Linked DNA regions of Homo sapiens: regions 1, 3 and 4 are each linked to region 2. The links come from fine-mapping of genetic effects on gene expression. A gene starts in region 2. Each other region holds a variant in brackets. All regions are shown on one strand. Distances are from middle to middle.

Region 1 (2,684 bases), 23 kb before region 2:
TCACACCTTTAATCCCAGCACTCTGGGAGGCTGAGGAGGGCAGATTACTGGAGGACAGGAGTTCAAGACCAGTCTGGCCAACATGGCAAAACCCTGCCTCTACTAAAAATTAGCCGGGTGTGGTGGCACATGCCTGTAATCCCAGCTACTCAGGAAGCTGAGGCATGAAAATCACTTGAACTCAGGAGGCAGAGGTTGCAGTGAGCCAAGATTGCACCATTGCACTCTAGCCTGGGCAATAGAGCAAGACTCTGTCTCAAAAAAAGAAAAGGATTTTGTATTAGTCTGTTCTTACACTGCTAATAAAGACATACGAGACTGGGTAATTTACCAAGGAAAGAGATTTAACTGACTCACAGTTCAGCATGGCTGGGGAAGCCTCAAGAAACTTAACAACCATGGGGAAAGGGGAAGCAAACACATCCTTCTTCACAGGGCAGCAGGAAGGAGAATAAGTGCCCAGCGAATGATGGTTTTATAAGGGAAGCCCCTTATAAAACCATCAGATCTTGTGTTACTATGATGAGAACAGGATGGGGCAAACCACCCCCATGATTCAATTATCTCCACCTGGTCCCTACCACAGCACATGGGGATTACGAGAACTACAATTCAAGATGAGATTTGGGTGAGGACACAGCCAAAATATATCAGATTTGAATAGACATTTCCCCAAAAAAGATATACAAATGGCCAATAAACCCAAGAAAAGAGACTTAACATCATTAGCTATTAGGGAAATTCAAACCACAATGAGATGTCCGTGCACATCCATTAGGATGGCCATACCCAGAAAGATAATAACAAGTGTTAACAAAGATGTAAAGAAAATAGAACCCTCATACATTGCTGGTAGGAATGTAAAATGGCGTGGTCACTTTGGAAAAACAGTTTGGCAGTTTCTCAAAAAGTTGAACATGGAGTTATCATATGACCCAGTATTTCCACTCACAGGTATATACCCAATGAAAGCAAATATCCACACAAAAAGTTGTACACAAATATTTATAGCAACATTATTCATAATACTAAAGAAGTGGAAACAACCCAAATATCCATCAACTGATGGAACTGCAATAAATTTGTAATGGCAATAAAAAAGAATTAAGTACATATTATAAAACAGATGAACCTTGAAAACGTGCTAAGTGAAAGAAGTCAGTCACAAAAGACTATATACTGCATTATTCCATTTACAAGAAATGTACAAAATAAGCAAATATACAGAGACAAAGTAGAATAATGATTGCCTAAAGCTGGGGGCATAGAGAGAATCTGGAGTGATGGCTAATAGGTACAGGGTTTCTTTTTGGGGTGACAACAATGTTCTCAAAGTAGATC[G/A]TGGTGATGGTCACAAAACTCTGAATATACCAAAGAAACCACTGAATTGTACACTTTAAGCAGGTGAAATGTGTGGTATGTGAATCATATCTCAAGTAAAACATAAGAATGTTATATAAATGGAATCATAAAGTGTATAACCTTTTGAGATTAGCTTTTTTCACTCAGTATAATTTCTGGAGAGGGATGATCCAGGTTGTTGCATGTATGAATATTTTATTCTCATTCCTTTGTATTGTTGAGTAATATCCCATTATATGAATCTACCAGTCTAAGTTACTTTTTAGTCATACGGAGAATGAGTATCTTTTACTATAGTACCAAGTAATATTTTTTTATCCTGTGAGTTGTTTTTCATATCCTTGGCACCTTTTCCTAATACCCCCTTTGTATTAGCTCTTTATCATATGTACTACAAATTCTTTTTCCAAACTTAACTCTGATTACAATGATTTTTGCAGTGAAGTTTTTAATTTTCATGTAGTGAAATATTCTTCTAGATTTTCTTCTAGTATTCTTATGGTTGCCTTTTTTTAAAATGTTAAAATCTTTAATTAAACCTTATTTTAGCATAAGAAGTTAGCAAGTTGAATCTTTGGATCCACCAGCAGTGTGATATAGTAGAAAGATCCAGGGGCTAGGAATCAGAAGGATTGGGTTCTAGTCTTGGCTATGCCACTACCTAGCCAAATCACTCTGGGCAGACAACCGGTCTGTGGAACCTGCCTTTTCGGCTTAACATAGTTTTGGTAAATAAATAAGATTATAGATTTATAACAGGATTCTCAAAAAAATGTTCAACAGACGCCTCTTTATGAAAAAAACTTAAAACATTATATATATTATATATGTTTGTATCACTTGCAATACTATTCCCATTTCATGCGCTATCTACTAGAAAACTCACACTGTCAGCCTCAGACAGAGGTAGCTTGCCCTCCCGCAAATCCTGTGTCTAAAGAAGTCAAGTGATTTGCCTAGGGTCACAGGTGAAGTCTAAGGAGGAGCTGGTTTCAGAAGTAAACCCAGTTAGCTATACCCCAGTCTTCCTCCTGAGTCAGAGACCACAATTCTCTGCCCGCTAAAAATGAACTGTCATCTTGTATTCATATCTATACATTAAAAAGAAAACAAAGGAATGAAAAACTACTGTCTGAAAAATGTACAGCCTATAATTAGGAGGTGGTGGAGTGTTAGCAGAGAGTAGAATCAGAGGGCTGAATTTCAAGTTATAAACTCCTACCTTGCTTCCGACAGCCTGGGATTTTGATAAAGGCCCCATAGTCTGTCACCATAGCAACCTATAAAGATGGGGGAAAAAAATCAATGTCACATACATGAGA
Region 2 (2,684 bases):
TTGGCCGGGCACAGTGGAGGCGCCTGTAATCCCAGCTACTGGGGAGGCTAAGGCAGGAGAATTGCTTGAACCTGGGAGGTGGAGGTTGCAGTGAGCCAAGGTTGCACCACCACACTCCAGCCTGGGCGACAGAGCAAGAACCTGTCTCAAAAAAAAAAAAAAAACAAAAAAAAACTGGTCTCTAATCATCTTCTAGTGTTCCCTATCCAGCTTGAGGGATTCCGTGATAGTGAGTGAATGGTACCACCATCTATTCAACTACATAAGCCAGAAACCTAGGAGTTACCTTTGATTCCTCTCTTCACTCCCTAAAATCAACCCATCACCAAGTCCCACCCATTTTACCTCCTATATACCTCTAGAATCTGTCCAATTCTCTGCAGTTCCACCCATATCTCAGTCCTCACTGACATCTCTGACCAGGATTACTGCATATCCCAAGTGGTCCACATACATCGACTAGGGCTTCCCCAACCCCCGTCTGTTCACACCACTGAGCCTGAGGGATCAAGTCCCCTCCTCCACCACACCCCACTGGGGGAAGACGGCTCAGTGGTATCTCATCCGTTTTAAAATAAAAGCTACAAATTCCTGCAAGGTCTGACCGCTATCACGTACAGCTTCATCTTGTACCATACTCCCTTCATTCTCTTTGTACCAGCCACACTGGCTCTTTGTGCTTTTAGTCATTTTCCTCCCAAGTGCCTCAGGGCTCTGAACAAGTAGTTCTCTATGGAAGGTTCTGCCTTCACTTCTTCACCTAATTAATTACAACACTTCCTGCAGCTACCAGCGCAGGCATCTTTTCCTCTGAAAAACCTTCCTGCTTATTTCAGGCACTCATAGCATCAGGCAGCAGTAGGAGGCATTTCCATGTATTAGTGAGGTCATTGTTTAACGTTTTCCCCACCAGAGTTAAACGCCCTGAGAGTAGGGACCGTGCCCGGTTCACAACATACCCCCAACGCGCTGCTAAATGAATATCAGCAGGACGACTGAGGCAATGACCACGTTCATGGGCATGAGTCTCAAATTTCTCAACAAGACTGTGCTCTGGAGAAGGAGTCGGACATTTCCTTCATCACTGTCTCTCTCAGGGGGGCATACAGTAGGCCCTGATCAAAAACTGCAAAATCAGTGGCAGAAACAAGTCAGCCTCCTCGGCCAAATGGGGCACCGGAGGAGGCTGGGACGCAGGCCTTTCTCCCTGGGAATGCCCGGCACAGGACTGGCCACGATGGGCGCTCTTGAAGAAGGGAGCCGCAGGGGCTGGGTCTTGCCGCCAGAGACCCCAAGGCTCCGCTCCTGCCCCGAAAGGGAGCCCAGGCTACTACTTACCACAGCTGGGGACTCGGGGCCCGCCTCCCACCCCTTGCTGTCAGCACCCTCAGCTGAGAAGGGCAGGTTCAGACTGCACAACCGAGGCGTCGCCTCCAGACTCAGGCAGCCACCCACCCCGTTCTTCCTCATACGTACTAGGCGTCAGCTCCAGGTCCCCGAGTCGCTGCGCTGAACTAAACGCCGACCCCAGTCAGCCAGCGCGTTTCCACCCACAAGACCCAGCGCGCCTAGGGCGGTCGCCAGCTCCGTCCACCAATCCTGGTATCGCACTCTCATGACGTCAGAAAGATATGCCCAATAACAAGAGACTATCCGAGGGCGGTGCAAATGGAAATATTGAAAGCCGATTGGTTCTTCCAAGCTGGAAGTTGTGGAGGAAGGACTAATTTGGAACCAATTGCGTGGCGCCTGAGAGCGGCAGCGCGGTCAGTGGCGGCGCTGAAGAGACCGGTTGCCGCCATGATAGAACAGCAGAAGCGTAAGGGCCCAGAGTTGCCGCTGGTTCCAGTCAAGCGGCAGCGGCATGAGTTGCTGTTGGGAGCGGGGTCTGGCCCAGGAGCCGGGCAGCAGCAGGCGACGCCGGGAGCCTTGCTGCAAGCGGTAAGTGAAGAAGCAGGCGGCCTTTGGCCCTCAGCTCATCTTCCTCCCCTCAGAGCGCTGTATCTGGTGATCCCTGACCCTTTCCCGCATTGCGGGGGCAGAACGAGAGTTTCTACGCAGAGTTAAAGCACATAAACACTGTAAAAGCTCCCCATAGCCTGCGAATGCTGCGTACGTGTTCCCCCGTTTGGCGCCCGTTTTCAGCCTCTCGACTGCCCTGAGATAGCATTAGAATTAGAGTTGAGGACCTTGGGCTCAAAACCCTGACCCGGGTTTAAGCATCCTGACTCTAACATGGATCTGGCATAGAACAAAAATTCCGAAGAGTGTGTAGAATGAATGAATGAGGGAGGGAAGAAAAAAGGGAAATGATTTGTGTTGGCTCGTTTTGGGACTTTGGGCAAGTTGCTTTTCCCTTTATTTCTCTGCACTAGTATTATTAACAACTAAATAGCAGCTAACATTCATTGACTCTTGTACTAAAGTGTTTCGTATATGAAATTTCCATTGATCTTGGTAGCAGCCTGTTAGGAACGTTATTAACCCATTTTGCAGATGGAAAAACAGACTTACCAAGTACGTGATAGAAGCAGATTTCGAACTGAGAAACCATGCTCCTAACTACATTTTTTGTAAGATAGAAATAGTGATCACACTTCTAATGTCCTGTTTAGGCTCAGACGAGGAAATACGAGTGTCCTCACATCTCCTCAATAAATCCTGCTGGCACCGTCCTCAAAATA
Region 3 (2,684 bases), 58 kb after region 2:
ATTTGCCCAAGGTCACACAGCGAGTGAGCAGCAAAGTCTGGATTTGACTCAGGGCTGTTGTCCCCTAAGCCCGCACGCACTCTTCCACTTCACTCCCTGCCTCTCCAACCCTCCACCTCCCTATCCCTCTCCCCTCCCCTCCGGCGGCTCCCCCGCCCCACCCCTCTGCCGTTCCCCCCAACTCCCTCCCTGTCGGTGGCGGCGGCGGAGCCACGTGGTGGGGCCGGGAAGCCGCGGCCGACGAGAGCCCGGGCGACTGCCCCAGCTGGGCAGTGCTGCTCTGCGCTGCGCCGCGCTCGGGGCTCGCTCTCCTTGCTCCGCGCTCCCCGCCAGCCGCCCCGGGGCAGGAGGCGCGCCTGACGGACGGCCCGCTAGACAAAGGAGGCGCGGCTCGGCGGGGCCAGCGCGCGGACGGACGGACCATGGACTCGGAGCGCGGGCGGCCGGCCCCAGCCTTGGGGACCGGACACTCCCGGGCCCGGCCCTAGGCGCCCGGCCCCGCCGCCCGGCGCGCCCAGCGGGGAGGACGTGGAGCCCGCGCGGCGCGAGCAGGCGGCGGCCGCGGAGCAAGAAGGGCGCCGCGGCGTGCGGCCCGCGCAGCCCCCGGAGCCATGGGCAAGTGCAGCGGGCGCTGCACGCTGGTCGCCTTCTGCTGCCTGCAGCTGGTAAGCGTCGCGTGCCCAGGCAGTCGGGGCAGGGTGGGGCGCGGCGGGGCGCGGTCCCAGGGCGTGCGGGTGGGGTTGCGTGTGTCTCTGTGTGTGTGTCTGGTGCGTGTGCCCGGGCGGGGGGTGGTCTGGAGTCTCGGAGCGGTCGGGCGGAGCCTGCTCCCGCTGGCCGGGCTGTCTCTTTGTGTGCGCTTCTCGCTGCTGTGCCCGGCGCTCCTCCGGTCCCCAAGTGCGTCCTGTGCGCGAGTCCCCGGCCCGCCCGCACTGTACAAGTGGCCTCCTGTTGGGGGATGCGCTGTGGGACGGTGGCTTGCTGGGACTGGGGGTGTGTCTGAGGCTGATCTGTGGATCCGTTGAGGTCCTGCTGTGTGTTTCCCTCTAGATCCCTCGTTTGCATGGGTCTCTCCCTTCCTCTGGGTCTCTGCCTCTGATCACCACCCCTGTGTGAGCGTTTCTCACAAAGTCTCTGCTCCGGCGTGTGTCTCTCAGGGTTTCTCTTTGGTGTGTCTCTAAATCGCTGACCATTTCTGGCCCATGTTCATCTGTGTTCTGGGATCTTAGACTCCAAGAACCCTCCAATCCTTTGTGTTGTTTCTGCCTCCCTTCACCTTCCTGACCGGGCAGTCCTGGGAAAGGAGAGCCACCTCCCTGGAGAGGGTCACCAGGAGCTGCCAGATCCTGGGCCAGCCTGACCCAGCCTGGACCACACTTCCTGCTTTGGTCTGGC[C/T]GCTGTGGCCATGGGGGTTCCATCAGTCATCAGTTCCACCCACCAGAGCAGCTCCTCTGCCGGGGCCAGCAACAGTGGGGATGGGGACACTTGGGTGCCCTAGGGAGGACCAGAGCATCTGAGGACACTGTGCCTAGCCCCAGCATAGGGAACTCAGGTTCTTGTCTCAGGGAGGAGTGACTGTAGTGGACTAGAAGAAACAGCACTGCCCTTCAAATCAGGCCCTGGCAGGGGAATTTGGGAGGGTGGTTAAGGAGAGGCAGGGGTCTCCTACCTACCCTAGAGCTGAGATTGAACAACTAGGGAGGTTGAAGCTGTGCTTCTCCTCTAGGCAGAGGTGCATGGGGACCTCCATCGCCGAACCCAGGTCTGAGAGTGGGCAGCGAGGAGCCTGAGCCCCCCTCATGCTGGACTCCTTGTTCTGGGTTTCCACTCTTGCCTGCATCCATCACGCCCTCCCCACCACAGGAGCCAATGATAATGTAGAGTGAAGTTTTGAGCCTGGACATGCAGACCTCCTCATTCGTCTTGCTTCTCTCCTCCTGGGGACACCAGCTTCAAACATGCCATCCACAGACCTGGCCTGGGCAGTGGTGGAAACAGCCCTAGCTCTGGAGATTGTAGCCCTGCTCCCAGCTGTGGGAGACTGGACAAGTGACTTCCCCCCACTGGCCGGCCTCAGTCTTCTTATCTGTAAAATGATTATCCCTGAGGATTGCAGAGGGAATTAATTAAGATCAGGTGGAATGGGAACTCCAGAAGGGCAGAGATTGTCTGTTTTTCTTTATCTACTTTGAGGAACATGAAATGCCAAGAAATGTTTAAACCTTTCAGAGGATTCTTCTGTGTTTGTTAATTTTTTAATTTTAAACTAGGGGTTTTTTTTAATTAGAAAAGTAATATACATATATTGTAAAAAATAAATACATACATAATCAAACAGGACAGATAAATAAAAAGTAAGTTTTCTAGGCCAGGCATCGTGGCTTATGCCTGTAACCCCAGCACTTTGGGAGGGCGAGATGGGCAGATCACCTGAGGTCAGGGGTTCGAGACCAGCCTGGCCAACATGAAGAAACCCCATCACTGCTGAAAATACAAAAATTAGGGGTGGTGGCACGCATCTGTAATCCCAGCTACTCGAGAGGCTGAGACATGAGAATCACTTGAACCCAGGAGGCGGAGGTTACAGTGAGATGAGATCACGCCGCTGCACTCCAGCCTGGACGACAGAGTGAAACTGTGTCTCAAAAAAAAAAAAAAAGTTTTCTTCTCTCTATAACTAGACCCCT
Region 4 (2,684 bases), 62 kb after region 2:
ACCGTCTCTGAGCCACATAGTTTTGTCATCTGTTAAATAGAGAGAATATAAAACAGTTCCTAATCCTTAGGGTTGTTGTGAGGACTCAGTCCATATAATGAATTTAGCACTCTGGCAGGTACAGAGTGAGTACTCATTAAACTGTAGCTTATTGTTATTATCTTAATGATTCATATCATGGGATGTGTCTGTGGCACTGTAGCCCAAACATATCCAGGTGACCCCCTGCACTGTCCTTTGTGGACTGTCCTTTGTGGGAAGTAGCAGGTAGTTGGGCACTGAGCTGAGAGGCAAAAGACCTGGATTTAAGCCTGGCTCTGCTTCTGACATCCTGCAATTTGGGGCAAGTCTCTTCCACACTCTAGGCTTTGGTTTTTCCATCTGTAAAATGGGAGGCATTATTGGTCTGGCTCGCTGGGATCCTGCCAGCTGTACTTGTCAGGAACTCAGGGTGGTGCCTGGACTGGCATGTTTTGTTTATTTATTGTTTATTTTTTAGAGATAGGCGTCTCACTGTGTTGCCCAGGCTGGAGTGCAGTGGCAATCATAACCCACTGCAGCCTCAAATTCCTGAGCTCAAGTGACCTTCCCACCTCAGCCTCTCAAATAGCTGCAGCCTCAAATCCCTGAGCTCAAGTGATCCTCCTACCTCGGCCTCTCAAATAGCTGGGACAACAGGTGCATGTCACCACACCTGGCTTTGGCATGGCAGTTTTGTTGCATCTTGATCCGGTTCCTTTCTGTAGAACATCTTGGGTCCCTTGCTTTCCAGAATTCTTTTTGGTGTATCATTTTGACAACATTATTAACATATTCACCCTCTAATTTTTAATCCCGTGCCTTTTCTCTCTCCTTTCCAAACCCAGCTCTTCCTTGTTCACCTCCTTCCTGAAACCTTACAGGCCACTCTGTTCTTCCTGGAAGGGGATGAACCAGTGAGATTTGCCCTAGGGAATCCCCATCAATTTCTTCATCATCATCATTATCATTCCCATTTCAGGAGTCCTGTGCTAAGCACTTTATATGCATTACCTCATTTAACCAAATGAGCATACATATGTAAAGTGCTTGGCAAAGTGCCTGGTGCATGTTAAATGATCAATAAACGTTAGCTCTTTTACTGCTTTCATCCTTCTTATTGCAATTCCACACAGTGGGGTAGATGTGTTTATTATCCCCTTTTTCAGGTGAGGAAATTGAGGTGCGAAGGGGTGTGACGTTTGCCCAAGCTCGCTAAGCTAGTCAGTGACAGAACCAAGATGCGAGGACTCTTCTGTCTGAACAGAGAGCCACCCTCTCAGCCCCGTGCTACTCTACTGCTCGCGTTTAACCAGTGCTTGACCCCAGACAGGTCCAAGCCTGCGTTTCCTCATCTGAAAATGAAGATGATCATATTTCGATAGCCTCATGTGTAGTGCCTGCACTGTGAGCCAGTGAGTGCCCAATA[ATAG/G]ATCACTGCCATGGTTGTTTCTGTCCCAGCTCTGTGTGACCTTGGACACACGCATTCACTCCTCTGGCCACAGTTTCTTCCTTTGTAAAAGAGGAAGAGTCATCTCTAGCCCACAGAGTTGTAGAAAGGGCTTCCTTGGCCAGGTGCCAGACACATAGTAGGTATTCAGAAAAATGTTGGTTTCATTCTTTTCCCTTCTAGAAAGCTCTTTGCTTTCTGGAAGGTGGGGGCGGGGGGCGGGATGTAGCTTCCAGCTGAGCTGCGAGTAATGGTGTGAAACATGGTCAACCTGATTGATGTCGTTATTAGCAATAGTGACGGCGAAGACCAAAGGGAGATGGGCTCCAGCAGGGGCCTGCACTCTGGAGCAGCTGCAGCTGCAAGCTCACGGCTTCCTCGGGAGGGTCTGGTTCTGCTTCGGGTGCTTGAGGTCCTTGGGCCGGGTATCAGAGTCAGGAGCGTGAAATTATGCAGGCCACTGGCCCCTTTTGTTCCTCATACCCCTTTGGACAGAGTTGGCAGGGATGATCAACTCCCTTTTGTGAATGAACAGACTGAAGCCAAACTGCCCTCGAGGCCCTTATGAGATGGGCGGAGCAGGGTAGAATGGAGAAGAAGGCCTCCAGGGGACCTGGGGATGGCCCTGGTTCTCCTCCTTTATAAGGGTAGGTGAGTGGATGGTTTTTAAATAAGCAGCCCATAAATGGCAGCTTCGCTGAGATCTGGCACAGGGGCTAGGAGCACTACATCTGGGATCAGGCCTTGCTTTGTGACTCCCAGGAAGTCCTGCACCCTCTCTGAGCCTCTGCCTTCTTACTTACAAAGTAGTCAGAAAAACAGCTTCTACCCCACGAACGAGCCCATGGCAGTTTGGGGAATTCGCAAGTTGATGCCGGGATAGCCAAGTACGGTCCCTGGCCTAGGAAAGTGCTCTCCAGGGCTAGCTATGATTTGCCTTGAGACTTGGACAAGTCACGTCAGCCCCATCTCTGCCTGTATTAGAGGATTTCGTGATCAGGGTCATTCCCACAAACACTCCAGCTCTTCTTTATGTGGAAAATATGGGGCTGAGTGGGAAATTAACATAATGAGAATTTCTTTTTGTTTGGTGTCTGCTATGAGCCAGGCATTGTACTAGGCATTTTATATATGTCTCTTGCTACTGTGTGGCTTATCCATGGCCACATAAATGATAGGTGCAGAATGAGTATTCAAACTCAGATCTGGGACTCCA

Alleles and levels. Positions count from the first base shown, and alleles are read on the strand shown. Sizes are in standard deviations (SD) of each study's normalised expression. Not every link is listed here.
As copies of ATAG replace G in region 4, the expression in fibroblasts of the gene that starts at base 1,520 in region 2 goes up (moderate effect, 0.43 SD a copy in GTEx).

Evidence for each region. PIP is the estimated chance that this variant, and not a neighbour inherited with it, causes the effect.
Region 1: its variant is the best candidate, but not a certain one, in a credible set for the expression of ZCCHC17 in whole blood (INTERVAL, PIP 0.68).
Region 3: its variant is the best candidate, but not a certain one, in a credible set for the expression of ZCCHC17 in whole blood (INTERVAL, PIP 0.64).
Region 4: its variant is the best candidate, but not a certain one, in a credible set for the expression of ZCCHC17 in fibroblasts (GTEx, PIP 0.55).

Annotation. Positions count from the first base shown.
Region 1 is chr1:31,319,067-31,321,750 of GRCh38, reverse strand. ZCCHC17 (zinc finger CCHC-type containing 17) reads right to left here. Exons shown (of 8, transcript NM_016505.4): 3 at 2,585-2,642. Among named protein-coding and RNA genes, the nearest start is that of ZCCHC17, 23 kb to the right of the region's middle. The variant G/A (reference allele first, on the strand shown) is at 1,342.
Region 2 is chr1:31,295,868-31,298,551 of GRCh38, reverse strand. It overlaps ZCCHC17 (zinc finger CCHC-type containing 17), which reads right to left and starts at 1,520. Exons shown (of 8, transcript NM_016505.4): 1 at 1,477-1,520. SNRNP40 (small nuclear ribonucleoprotein U5 subunit 40) reads left to right here and starts at 1,764. Exons shown (of 10, transcript NM_004814.3): 1 at 1,764-1,941. The coding sequence starts at 1,801. RefSeq lists an enhancer at 1,786-1,995.
Region 3 is chr1:31,237,475-31,240,158 of GRCh38, reverse strand. It overlaps NKAIN1 (sodium/potassium transporting ATPase interacting 1), which reads left to right and starts at 272. Exons shown (of 7, transcript NM_024522.3): 1 at 272-665. The coding sequence starts at 612. The variant C/T (reference allele first, on the strand shown) is at 1,393.
Region 4 is chr1:31,233,449-31,236,132 of GRCh38, reverse strand. The region is part of intron 1 of NKAIN1 (sodium/potassium transporting ATPase interacting 1); the gene reads left to right. Among named protein-coding and RNA genes, the nearest start is that of NKAIN1, 5.1 kb to the left of the region's middle. The variant ATAG/G (reference allele first, on the strand shown) is at 1,448.